Homo sapiens: one gene and its partners. The protein of the gene in region 2 purifies or fractionates together with the protein of the main gene of each other region. This does not show direct contact. Each region holds a gene or a part of one and is shown on either strand. Other genes may lie near its edges. The genes, in order: ANGEL2, CDO1 and RERE.

The links.
Region 1: the proteins of CDO1 (region 2) and ANGEL2 fractionate together in Homo sapiens (co-fractionation; one large-scale study listed by BioGRID). This does not show direct contact.
Region 3: the proteins of CDO1 (region 2) and RERE purify together in Homo sapiens (affinity purification with mass spectrometry; 2 studies listed by BioGRID and IntAct, with this or other methods). This does not show direct contact.

The regions. Positions count from the first base shown.
Region 1 is NC_000001.11:212,995,368-212,999,020, reverse strand, and holds part of ANGEL2 (protein angel homolog 2), read left to right. Parts: intron 1-1,702; coding exon 1,703-1,866; intron 1,867-3,653.
Region 2 is NC_000005.10:115,806,526-115,810,178, forward strand, and holds part of CDO1 (cysteine dioxygenase type 1), read right to left. Parts: intron 3,173-3,653; exon of another isoform or gene 3,097-3,172; intron 2,169-3,096; exon of another isoform or gene 1,925-2,168; intron 1-1,924. UniProt on the Homo sapiens protein: Catalyzes the oxidation of cysteine to cysteine sulfinic acid with addition of molecular dioxygen.
Region 3 is NC_000001.11:8,653,502-8,657,154, forward strand, and holds part of RERE (arginine-glutamic acid dipeptide repeats protein), read right to left. Parts: intron 2,941-3,653; 5' UTR 2,797-2,940; coding exon 2,472-2,796; intron 1-2,471. UniProt on the Homo sapiens protein: Plays a role as a transcriptional repressor during development. May play a role in the control of cell survival. Overexpression of RERE recruits BAX to the nucleus particularly to POD and triggers caspase-3 activation, leading to cell death.

The DNA of each region.
Region 1 (3,653 bases), on a different chromosome or scaffold from region 2:
TGCACGTGTAATCCCAGGTAGGCTGAGGCAGAGTATTGCTTGAACCCTGGGGGGCAGAGGTTGCAGTGAGCCGAGATCGCACCACCGCATTCCAGCCTGGGTGACAAAGCAAGCCTCCGTCTCAATAATGATAATAATTTTAAAAAATAGATACCTTACTTGCCCTTGGTGTCTAAAAATTAAAAGAAAAAAAGAGGCCGGGCGCGGTGGCTCACGCCTGTAATCCCAGCACTTTAGGAGGCTGAGGCGGGCGGATCATGAGGTCAGGAGATTGAGACCATCCTGGCTAACACGGTGAAACCGCGTCTCTACTAAAGATACAAAAAAAAAAATTAGCTAGGTGTGGTGGTGGGCGCCTGTAGTCCCAGCTACTCGGGAGGCTGAGGCAGGAGAATGGTGTGAACCTGGGAGGTGGAGGTTGCAGTGAGCTGAGATCATGCCACTGCACTCCAGCCTGGGCGACAGAGCAAGACTCTGTCTCAAAAAAAAAAAAAAAAAAAGATACTTTTTTGTATCTTTATGTAAATACAGAGTGTTTATATGCATAGCTTATATCTGTAAACTGAAAAATTGATAGATAAGAGTTTGCAGAAGACCTATTTTTATTTATTATTTTTATTTGAGAGTTGATCTCACTGTCATCCAGGCTAGAGTGCAGTGGCATGATCTTGGCTCACTGCAGCCTCCACCTCCCAGGCTCAAGCCTTTCTCCTACCTTAGTCTGCCAAGTAGCTGAGACCACAGGCATGTGCCTCCACGCGTAGCTACTTTTCTAGATTTTTTTTTTTTTTTTGTAGAGATGAGGTCTCACTGTGTTGCCCAGGCTGGTCTCGAGCTCCTGAGCTCAAGCAATCTTCCCGCCTTGGCTTCCCAAAGTGCTGGGATTACAGGTGTGAGCCACCGCGTCCGGCCCTATTTTATGTTTAATATTATAAATCCTTAGACATAAAAAGTTGCTAATAAAACTTAGAGGGCATTTTTAAGGATTTACCTTTGTTCCTGACATATGAACACTTTAAAAGCAAGGGAAACATCTTCATCTATGTATTCTCAGCACCTGACATATTGCCTAGAACTTAGAAGATGTTTGGTAAATGTTTGTTGGATAAGTTTCTTTTTTAATTTTATTTTCCTTCAAGGCATAAAAGATCCTTAAGATTCATAAAGTATCACTAGAAAATAGTCTTTAAACCTTTTACTCATAACATCACATATATTTGTGCATGGGGCAAATATAATAAACCATTAGAGAAGCTGTTTTAAGATGCAGTACAAAATTATATGTGATAGCAAGAAAAATTAGAGAAGAATATGGCCTCTCTGTCATCAAAAGTCTAGAGGATTCCAAATAGTGTTCCTGAAGACCCCCTTGATTCTCTTTCTTAAAAACACAATAAAACTTGTTAGAATACATGTTCTTTAGTAAGTGGAGGCATTCACACGTTATAAATAATGAAAAAACACATTAGTATGTTAATTATTGAGCTTTTTTTAAAAACCACATTTATAATGGCTTTATTGATGGGTTTTAGATATCACTGCATAAGTAAATTAATACTAAATTATGATATGGTCTTTTTAAATAAAGCTTGTCCTAATGTTTGGTCTTAGTCTAGAAATTAAGTGAAAAAGAAATTCAGATAGGAGGAATTCTTGAAGTTACAAAAACTCGGATTCTAAACACTTCTTCTTTTCTATTTAGATTGTCTTCAAATTTACAGCACCATTTCAGTTTGTCATCTGTTTATTCACATTACTTTCCTGACACTGGAATTCCAGAAGTGACCACCTGTCATTCCCGAAGTGCCATAACTGTGGATTATATTTTCTACTCTGCAGAAAAGGAAGATGTTGCTGGGCACCCAGGTAAGGAATGCATGTAATCTTAAATTCTCCTAGAGAGCACAGTAGCTAAAACCTCAAGGTTAAAGTTAAGAAAGCTCTCTAAACATCCAGTTGAAGTTCTAGATCTAGAAGGTAAAAATATTTCGAAATAGACAGATTGGTAATATATTTGAATAAATCAGTTGATTACTTGCATATGAGGGAGGCAATAAAACACATCCAAGCAAATTATTACCCAAGAATTACATTAGCAGTCCTACCCTCCAGTTCCAGTCAGCCTCTGAGTTATAGGTCTTTCATATTGCCCTTTCTTTTTGCTTGCCATAAATTTACTGTTTTTCCTGTGACAGGAACTGAGTATGTTGTTAATGGTCATCATAGTTTTGTGCTTAAATTTTACCGAGGCGTCCTGCCTTCATTGGAGGACCATAGTTACACTGCCAGCAACACAGCTTATGCTGTCATGTTGACTCTGGAATATTGGATTTTTCTGAGGAGGAAAAGTATATATATATATATATATATATATATATATTTTTTTTTTTTTTTTTTGGATACAGAGTCTCGCTCTGTTACCCAGGCTAGAGTGCAGTGGCATGATTCTCGGCTTACTGCAACCTCTGTCTCCCGGGTTCAAGTGACCTTCCCACCTCAGCTTCCCGAGTAGCTAAGACTACAGGCATGAGCCACCATGCCCACCTAATTTTTGTATTTTTTGTAGAGACAGGGTTTCACCGTGTTGCCCAGGCTGGTCTCAAACTCCTGGGCTCAAGCCGTCCACCTCGGCCTCCCAGGGTGGCTTGGATTACAGGCATGAGCCACCACATTCGGTCAGAAAAGTCTATATAATTTTTTTGTTTGTTTGTTTTTGAGACGGAGTCTCGCTCGTCGCCCAGGCTGGAGTGCAGTGGCGCTATCTCAGCTCACTGCAAGCTCCGCCTCCCAGGTTCACACCATTCTCCTGCCTCAGCCTCCCGAGCCACTGGGACTACAGGCGCCCGCCACCATGCCCGGCTAATTTTTTGTATTTTTAGTAGAGACGGGATTTCACCGTGTTGGCCAGGATGGTCTCGATCTCCTGACCTCATGATCTGCCTGCCTCGGCCTCCCAAAGTGCTGGGATTACAGGCGTGAGCCACTGTGCCCGGCCGAAAATCAGGTTTTAAACATTAGCCAAAGGATTTAAAGTGGAGAAGAAAATGCAGTTTAAGATTACTGGAAGTACAAAAATACCTTTAAGAAAACTTTGGAATGTGAGCAGCTGTTTTATTCTTTTCTGATTTTTTTCATTTTTTTCTCTTCCATTTTTTTGGATGCTTCTTTTTCTTTACCCTTTTCCCCTCTGTTTGTTCCCCCCTCCTTTCTTCTGGGAATAACCTTATTAGTAACACTCACGAGATGACTTATTCCTGCCACTAGATCTACTCTACAAAAAATATGCCTGCTGCTTTGAATTTATAGTAAGGTTTTCGTAGTTGTCATGCTGACAGAAGTTCACTTGGTGGCAGGAGAGTGTTATGGATCAGCATTTCAAAAAGAGCATGTCATCTTCACTTCTGTGGGTGCTGACTATCTGGGACTAAATTATACTAATTTATTCTCCATTCACCTTATAAACTGCTACAGGGCTGTGGCCCGGTGTCTCTGGCTTTATGCAACTACAGAATGGTTGCTGGATGAGTTTCTTATGTAGTTGTCAACCACAAATTACCCTTAACATTCTTAAGTATTTCATTTATATTTTCTTCTAAAGATTGTTTACAGAGCTGGAAATAGAAAAAATATCTCAAACTGCTGTGTGTTTGATA
Region 2 (3,653 bases):
ATATCCGGGAAGGAAAAATAGATAAAGGAGCCTAGATAACAGCTGTAGGTAAAATCTCTGTGAGTCATCTGAGATCATGAATCAATTGTGATGCAAATGGAATAGATATTAATTAGAATTGAACTTGCAGTTAAAGATAGTAAGTGACACGCATGCATTAGCCTCTGCTCCTTCCTGAAAACCCTCTCCAATGGCAGTAAAAAAATAAAAAAGACATCAATATACAAAGACAAAATAGGAAAAGAGAAAACACTAACAAAAATTTGAAAGCTTAGAAAGTAAGATGGATAGCTTTACAGAGCAGAGAAAGCTAAATCCTAAGCTATCCATGGAGAAAACCAAGAAATAACCTGATTTATATCTTGAAACTCCAAATAGCACAGGAATTGACAGCACCAGGTACTTCTGGAAATGAGGGTAAAGATAGGCTGTAGATATAAGAACTGGTTTAAAGCTTGTTTATGAAGTAGAGTCTCAAAACCCTTTTACCAATTCTCTCTCTTCTTTCTTTTCAGCAGCAGAGTAAGGTCTAGTCTCTAGAAAGAGTGTAAGAGATCAACTTGGGACTGATGGAAATCAGGTGAAAAACAGGTGAATTAAACAAAAGCTTCCATACTGAATGGTAAAAATCCCTGCTTTAGTCATCACCTAGCTGCGAGAATGCTGCCAGACAAGATTTTTCTTTCCAGGCAGAAGATAGGAAGCAACTTCTCAGAGAATCTGATTGGCTCAAGAAAAAAGCTTTAAAGATATTGTCGCTGGAAGTTCCTGAAGAAAAAGTCTCTGCCAGACTATCAAAAAGTGAAATCCAGTTGACAAGCTCCACTCATGTTCAGGGTTACCAATTAATTTTTTTGTTCTTGGTTTTTAAATATTAGCACATTGCCAAGGTCACCAGACATTTGAGCAAGGCCTCTAGTATGAAAGACAGAGGGCAGAGCAAACAAAAAAGCAACCTGCAACAGAGACTACTCAGGGGAAGTGTTCAAAAACCTATCATTAATGTTTTCCTAGAAATAAGAGAAAATACCATAAAAGGGACCATAAAACAAAAAGAGGTTGAAGAAACAGAAACCAGAAAAGGGTTGGCAGGAAATGCTGAGGAAGACTCAAAGAACAAAAGGACAAAGACAGAAAATAGAAAAGAAAGAGAAAAAAAAAAAAGAGGAACAGTTCAAGAGGTTTAATATCTAAATAGGAGTTTCAGAAACAGAATTAAAAAAAAATTCAAAGAAATAACCTGTTAATGTTTTCCTGAGTCGAAGGACACGAATTCCCAGATTTAAAAACCCACTGAGTACCCAGCACAATGAATGAGTCATCAAACAAGATACATCACTGTGAAATTTCAGAATACTGAGGATAGAGAGAAGGCACCAAAAGAGAAGATCCCAAAAGTTTCTAGAAAGAAAATAGAAAGATTCAAAAATCAGAATGGGACCAGGTTTTTTTAAAAAAAAACAAAAAAAACAAAAACAGGGTCTCATTCTGCTGTCCATGCTGAAGTATAGCAGTGGGATCTTGGCTCATTGTAGCCTCCACCTCCCGGGCTCAAGTGATCCTCCCACTTAGCTTCCCAAGTATCTGGGACTACAGGCACCTGCCACCATGCCCAGCTAATTTTTGTATTTTTGGTAGAGATGGGGTTTCAACATGTTGTCCAGGCTGTTCTTGAACTCCTGGGCTCAAGCAATTCTTCCATCTTAGCCTCCCAAAGTGCTGGGATTACAGGTGTGAGTCACCACACCCGGCCAGCCCTAGGCTTTTGATAAGAACACTAGAAACTAAAAGACAAAGGAATTACCCTCATGGTTCTGAGGGAAGATGTTTATCAGGTGATAATCCATAACCCAGCTAAATTATCAATCAAGTTGTAGGAGTTGAATATAGAGATATTTAAATATATGGGGTCTCAAAAATTTACCTTCCATGGATCCTTTCTTGTGGAGCCATTGGAGCATATGCTCCACCAAAACAAGGGCATCAACCAAGAATGAAAAAAAATCATGAGATCAGTAAAGAGGGGATCCAGCCACAGGAAACAGCAAAGGGAAAGCTTGAGAGAATGTAAGCCTTACATTGTAAGGAATCTCAGGATCACAGCTCACCCCTGGCCTAGAGATCAACGAATCTGTGCTGAAGCAGTCAAGAGGCCCTGGGAGAGAGATCTTCAAGAAGATTAAACACACACACACACAAAAACAAAACAAAACAAACAAAACAAAAAAACGAGATGAAATACTCAATTAAAAAATGTTAATAAACTTACACAGTTACAAGAAAGTTTCAGGGATTAATCAAGTAATGAATTTAGCATAACTAATGTAGGCACCCCATGAGGCTTTGTGCTTTCTTCTTTATGATCTAGCTCCATGAGTGCACATCATAAAGAAGAATGAAGCATAGAACCAGAAGACTTAAGTTCTACTTCTAGGTAATTAGCGATGCTATCTTTGAACAAGCCACACATTCTAGGATCTTTCATTTTCCTTATTTCTAAAACTGGTGCCTAATTCTCAGATCTGCAAATTCTTTGATCCTGTAGCTTGTTGTGTTCATAATATACTGGCTAAAGCACAGTTTTGAACAAATGTTCAACACTGCAGGTCCACGCATCATCTAATGCATGCTGACAATCCTGCAAGCAAAGACCCTGCAAAAACAAGACACCCATCCTTTAGAGAAGCTCCTATTAATAATCCAGGCATTATTATTATATTTTGATCTTTGCTTCTTTTTCCTTTATGGTCATGGTGTACCCTCTGTCACAGTAATACTGGACTTTTCTTGGGGGTATTTATGAAGCAGAGTTAGGTCCAGGCCCGGTCGACCTTTTGCTCATTACAATAGGCAACTTGGTCTCCTTGCCCCAGTCCTCCCTTCTCCTCCACCCTATGTTGCATGCTGCCACCAAATCGATCAAGATATTCCCAATTATAACTCTGCTGACCAAAGAAAGTCCTTACTTTTAGCTGGTCTTGCAGGCCCATACCCTGAGCTCACTTTACTCTCCTGCTAATCCACTGACCAAACCCATTCTTCTTTCTTTCCTTCCCCCAATGCTTGAATAGTTTCCATTTTTTACAACAATTGTACCTTCACTTGTGCTCTTCCTTGTACTTGCAACATCCTTCCCCCTGATCACTATCCATCTCCACCCCTACTCCTGCATCTGTAAGAATCAGAGGTTGAAAATTTGTGGCTTTTAAGTTATTTGGGTAATTAGTCTACAGAAATAATTAACATATCCCACCGAATATTTTAATAATTGGCAAAATTTCATATAAAACCCAGAATTTCCAACTTCTATGGAAAAAGAAACCAGGTTGATCTCACTGGAGCTGGGTGGCCACTGCTGTCACCTTAATATGAGGCTTGTATACTCCAGTTCATACCAGGCCTCACCACAGCTTTATCCCTGATGTATACCACTTCCTTATCTGTTGAGATTCTATAGGTTTTTGCATTGAAGACCTTTAAAAAGCTTACCTATTCTTAAAGATCTGATCTATTTTCACAAGCACTCTGACTCCAGCTGAAAGTAATTATTCTGAAAGGTGTGTGAATGCTTTACTTCTGAAATTATTCTGAAAGCTTTACTGTGAATGTACAGACAACAGAATTTTCTTGGAAATCTGGTGTGCCTTATAGAT
Region 3 (3,653 bases), on a different chromosome or scaffold from region 2:
TCGAGACCACGGTGAAACCCCGTCTCTACTAAAAATACAAAATATTAGCTGGGCGCAGTGGTGGGCGCCTGTAGTCCCAGCTACTGGGGAGGCTGAGGCAGGAGAATGGCGTGAACCCGGGAGGCGGAGCTTGCAGTGAGCCAAGATCGCGCCACTGCACTCCAGCCTAAGCAACAGAGCGAGACTCCACCTCAAAAAAAAAAAAAAAAAAAAAAGGGTTAACATGTTTTGTTCCTTTCCCATGATTTAGATGTGCGTACGCCCTAAACAAGCAATCTGTGGTAACTCTGAGAGATTCTTCAGTCACTAAGAAATTCTTACTGCCCAATAGCTGAGTCTACATCAAAGATAAATACAGACAGTACTGTAACCTACACACATCATTTAATCGTTACAGCAGATTTCTAACTGCTCTAAAACCTCCACTCTGATCAATTTATATCACACAAATACCTTCTCAGTTAATCTCCAACCAAGAAATTGTAGCTGTGAATGCAAATTTGTCTGTATTAAGTTCTAGCACTGACTTTTTTTTTTTTTGCGGGGGGGAGGGGTGGAGACAGGGTTTTGCTCTGCTGCACAGGCTGCAGTGCTATGATGTGAACGGGGCTTACTGCAGCCTTGCCCTCCTGAGCTCAAGGGATTCTTCTACCTCAGCCTCCTGAGTAGCTGGGACTGCAGTCTCATCACACTCCCAGCTAATTTTTTACTGTTTTGCAGAGATACGGTCTCACTATGTTGCCCAGGCTGGTCTCCACACTACTCAAGCAATCCTCCCGCCGCCTCAGCCTCTCAAAGTGCTGGGATTACAGTCATGAGCCACCGTGCCCAGCCCCACTGACATCTTTTGAAATTTAAAAAACTCCTGTGTGGGAGAATGAAAATCTGGAACTTGACGTGAAGTTCATAACAGTAACAGCATTCCTCAGTAAAATGATTGTTCCAGATTATGGACATAACACAGTGAAGTATTTTAATCTCCTTCTCAGAAAAACATAAAAATGGGCAGCTTTAATCTGCTAATTACATCTCATACAAAATTCATGTCACTCTTCAACAGTAAAAGTAACTCAAACAAAATGATTTCACCTAGGTTTTACTGGCTTCTGTAAGAAAGGATCTTGTTTTGTTTTTTTTTGTTTTTTTTTTTGAGACAGGGTCTTGCTCTGTTGCCCAGGCTAGAAAGCAGTGGTGCAATCATGCTTCACTACAGCCTCGACCTCCCAGACTCAAGTGATGCTCCTGCCTCAGCCTCCTGAATAGCTGGGACTACAGGTGTGTGCCACCAGGCCCAGCTAATTTGTAAAAATTTTTTGTAAAGATGGGGGTCTCACTACGTTGCCCAGGCTGGTCTTGAACTCCTGAGCTCAAGCAATCCTTCTGTCTCCGCCTCCCAAAGTGCTGGGATTACACTGTGCCCAGCCTAAAAAAGGTGTCTTAATACACACAATACATCAAATGAAAAGGAAAGGCTTTGCTAGTGTTCAACAGGTTTTGACTCACTTGTTTCCCTGATCTCATCTAAAAGTTGAGTCTGTCTTTTTTTGAGCAATGCTATAAGCCACAATATACTGGTGTGACCATAATACATTTTCTGGAAAACCAAGCAGGTTAGATGACTACTTCTATTATTGTTGATTAGAGAGCCTGAAGCTCAAATTTTTGGAAAAGGAAGTTAGCAGGAGCAATACATCTCTGATCTTCAGGGCTTTTTTTTTTTTCTGAGACGGAGACTCGCTCTGTTGCCCAGGCTGGAGTGCAGTGGTGTGATCTCGGCTGACTGCAACCTCCACCTCCTGGGTTCAAGCAATTCTCCCGTCTCAGCCTCCCAAGTAGCTGGGATTAGAGGTGCACACCACCGAGCCCAGCTAATTTTTGTATTTTTAGTAGAGACAGGGTTTCATCATGTTGGTCAGGCTGGTCTCGAACTCCTGACCTCAGGTCACCACCCGCCTCAGCCTCCCAAAGTGCTAGAATTGCAGGCGTGAGCCACCATGCCTGGCCTAAAGGCCATTTTTAAAAAGTACCTCTCTAGAGTCTGGTCGATCCTGTCCCAAGGTAAAATTTCCTGTTTCCAAGAATCTTAAGGTTTACTTGTCTCCACCAAGCAGTCAATTCTGCAGGGTCACCACAGTCTCATTTATGATTGAAGATTAAAAAGCAAGCATGAATTCAAAAGACAAAAAAATACTAAGCAGATGGTCCAGTTAGAGAACAAGCAGCACAGGAAAATAAGAAAAGAACTCATGAATGCATAAACCAGGACACAAGAGCAAATTAAGGCAGACACAAGCAAGAAGTGGGTGAACCTAACTGACCAAAAGTGGGTCACATGTTTACCAAATTAAGTTTCCTACTCTTCTAGATTCCAAGCCTTCCTTAAAGTGTACAAAGCGTATTTATTTCACCATAATGCCAAGATCATTCCCCCACTGTAAACATTGGCAAGACCCAAACGTAAGGCTCCTTACCTCCTGGTCTGTAGACCACATCATCTTCAGTGATGTAGGATGTTATCTCACCGGTATCTGTCCTTTCATAACGAGACTTTTTTTTCGGTGGTTTCTTCTTATTCTTCTTCGTGGACTCCTCTGCGGTGGCACTATTGTTGTCATTGTCCTCGTCTTCACTGTGATCACTCTCAGCATAATTTTTGGCTCCTCCTTCCAAGGTACAGCTCCGGCGTGGCCTTGAATTCTCACTCTCTCTTGCTTTGTCTCTTTTCTCTCTCTCTCGGTCCCGGTCTCGGTCCCGGTCCTTCTCTTTGTCTTTGTCTTTGTCTTTGTCCGCTGTCATGATTCGCCACGTGCCTTCTTCTGTCCTCTCACGGCTAGGCCTCCGTGAAAGGTAGACAGTAAGCCTGGGCTTCAGTCTTCTGAATTTCTCACTCAATTCCAGGGAAAATCCAACCACTCCAACAACCCCAACGTTTCAAAAATGCTAGGAGAGAAAAAAGAATGGTTTTAACGCTTTTTCATATTTGTTTCCTAAAATAATGTTTTGTTAAATGAATCTCTTACTTATTCATGCTTTACACCTAAAAACTTCGCACAAGCCACAGGAGAAAAATTAAGTGTTAAAATTTAAAAACTACAGTTTTTGGTCTCAGCAAATGGTTTGGGGTTTTTTATGACACCAATAATAAAAACTGTCTGAATGCCTAAGAGTAAACTACACTTCCTCCACCTTACATGTTTTCTCCTTTTTAAAGAAAAAGCAAACCAATACCCTGGTAGACAACATATAATGGGTATTATTATACAAAAGGAGCTTCATAACTCATAATATTAATTTAAAGAGGAAAGAATCTGTAGTAAAAATTATTTCCAGGCCAGGCACTGCGGCTCATGCCTTGTAATCCCAGCATTTTGAGAGGCCAAGCCAGAAGGACCACTTGAAGCCAGGAGTTCAAGACCAACCCTGGCAACAAAGCGAGATCCCATCTCCAACATAAAATAAAATATTTCTACCTGAAAAAATAGTAATAGTTTGCAGCACTGTCAAAAATGTCTCAGGATAGGCCGGGCGCGGTGGCTCACGCCTGTAATCCCAGCGCTTTGGGAGGCCGAGGAAGATGGATCACGGGGTCAGGAGATCAAGATCATCCTTGCTAATGTGGTAAAACCCTGTCTCTACTAAAAAATACAACAAAA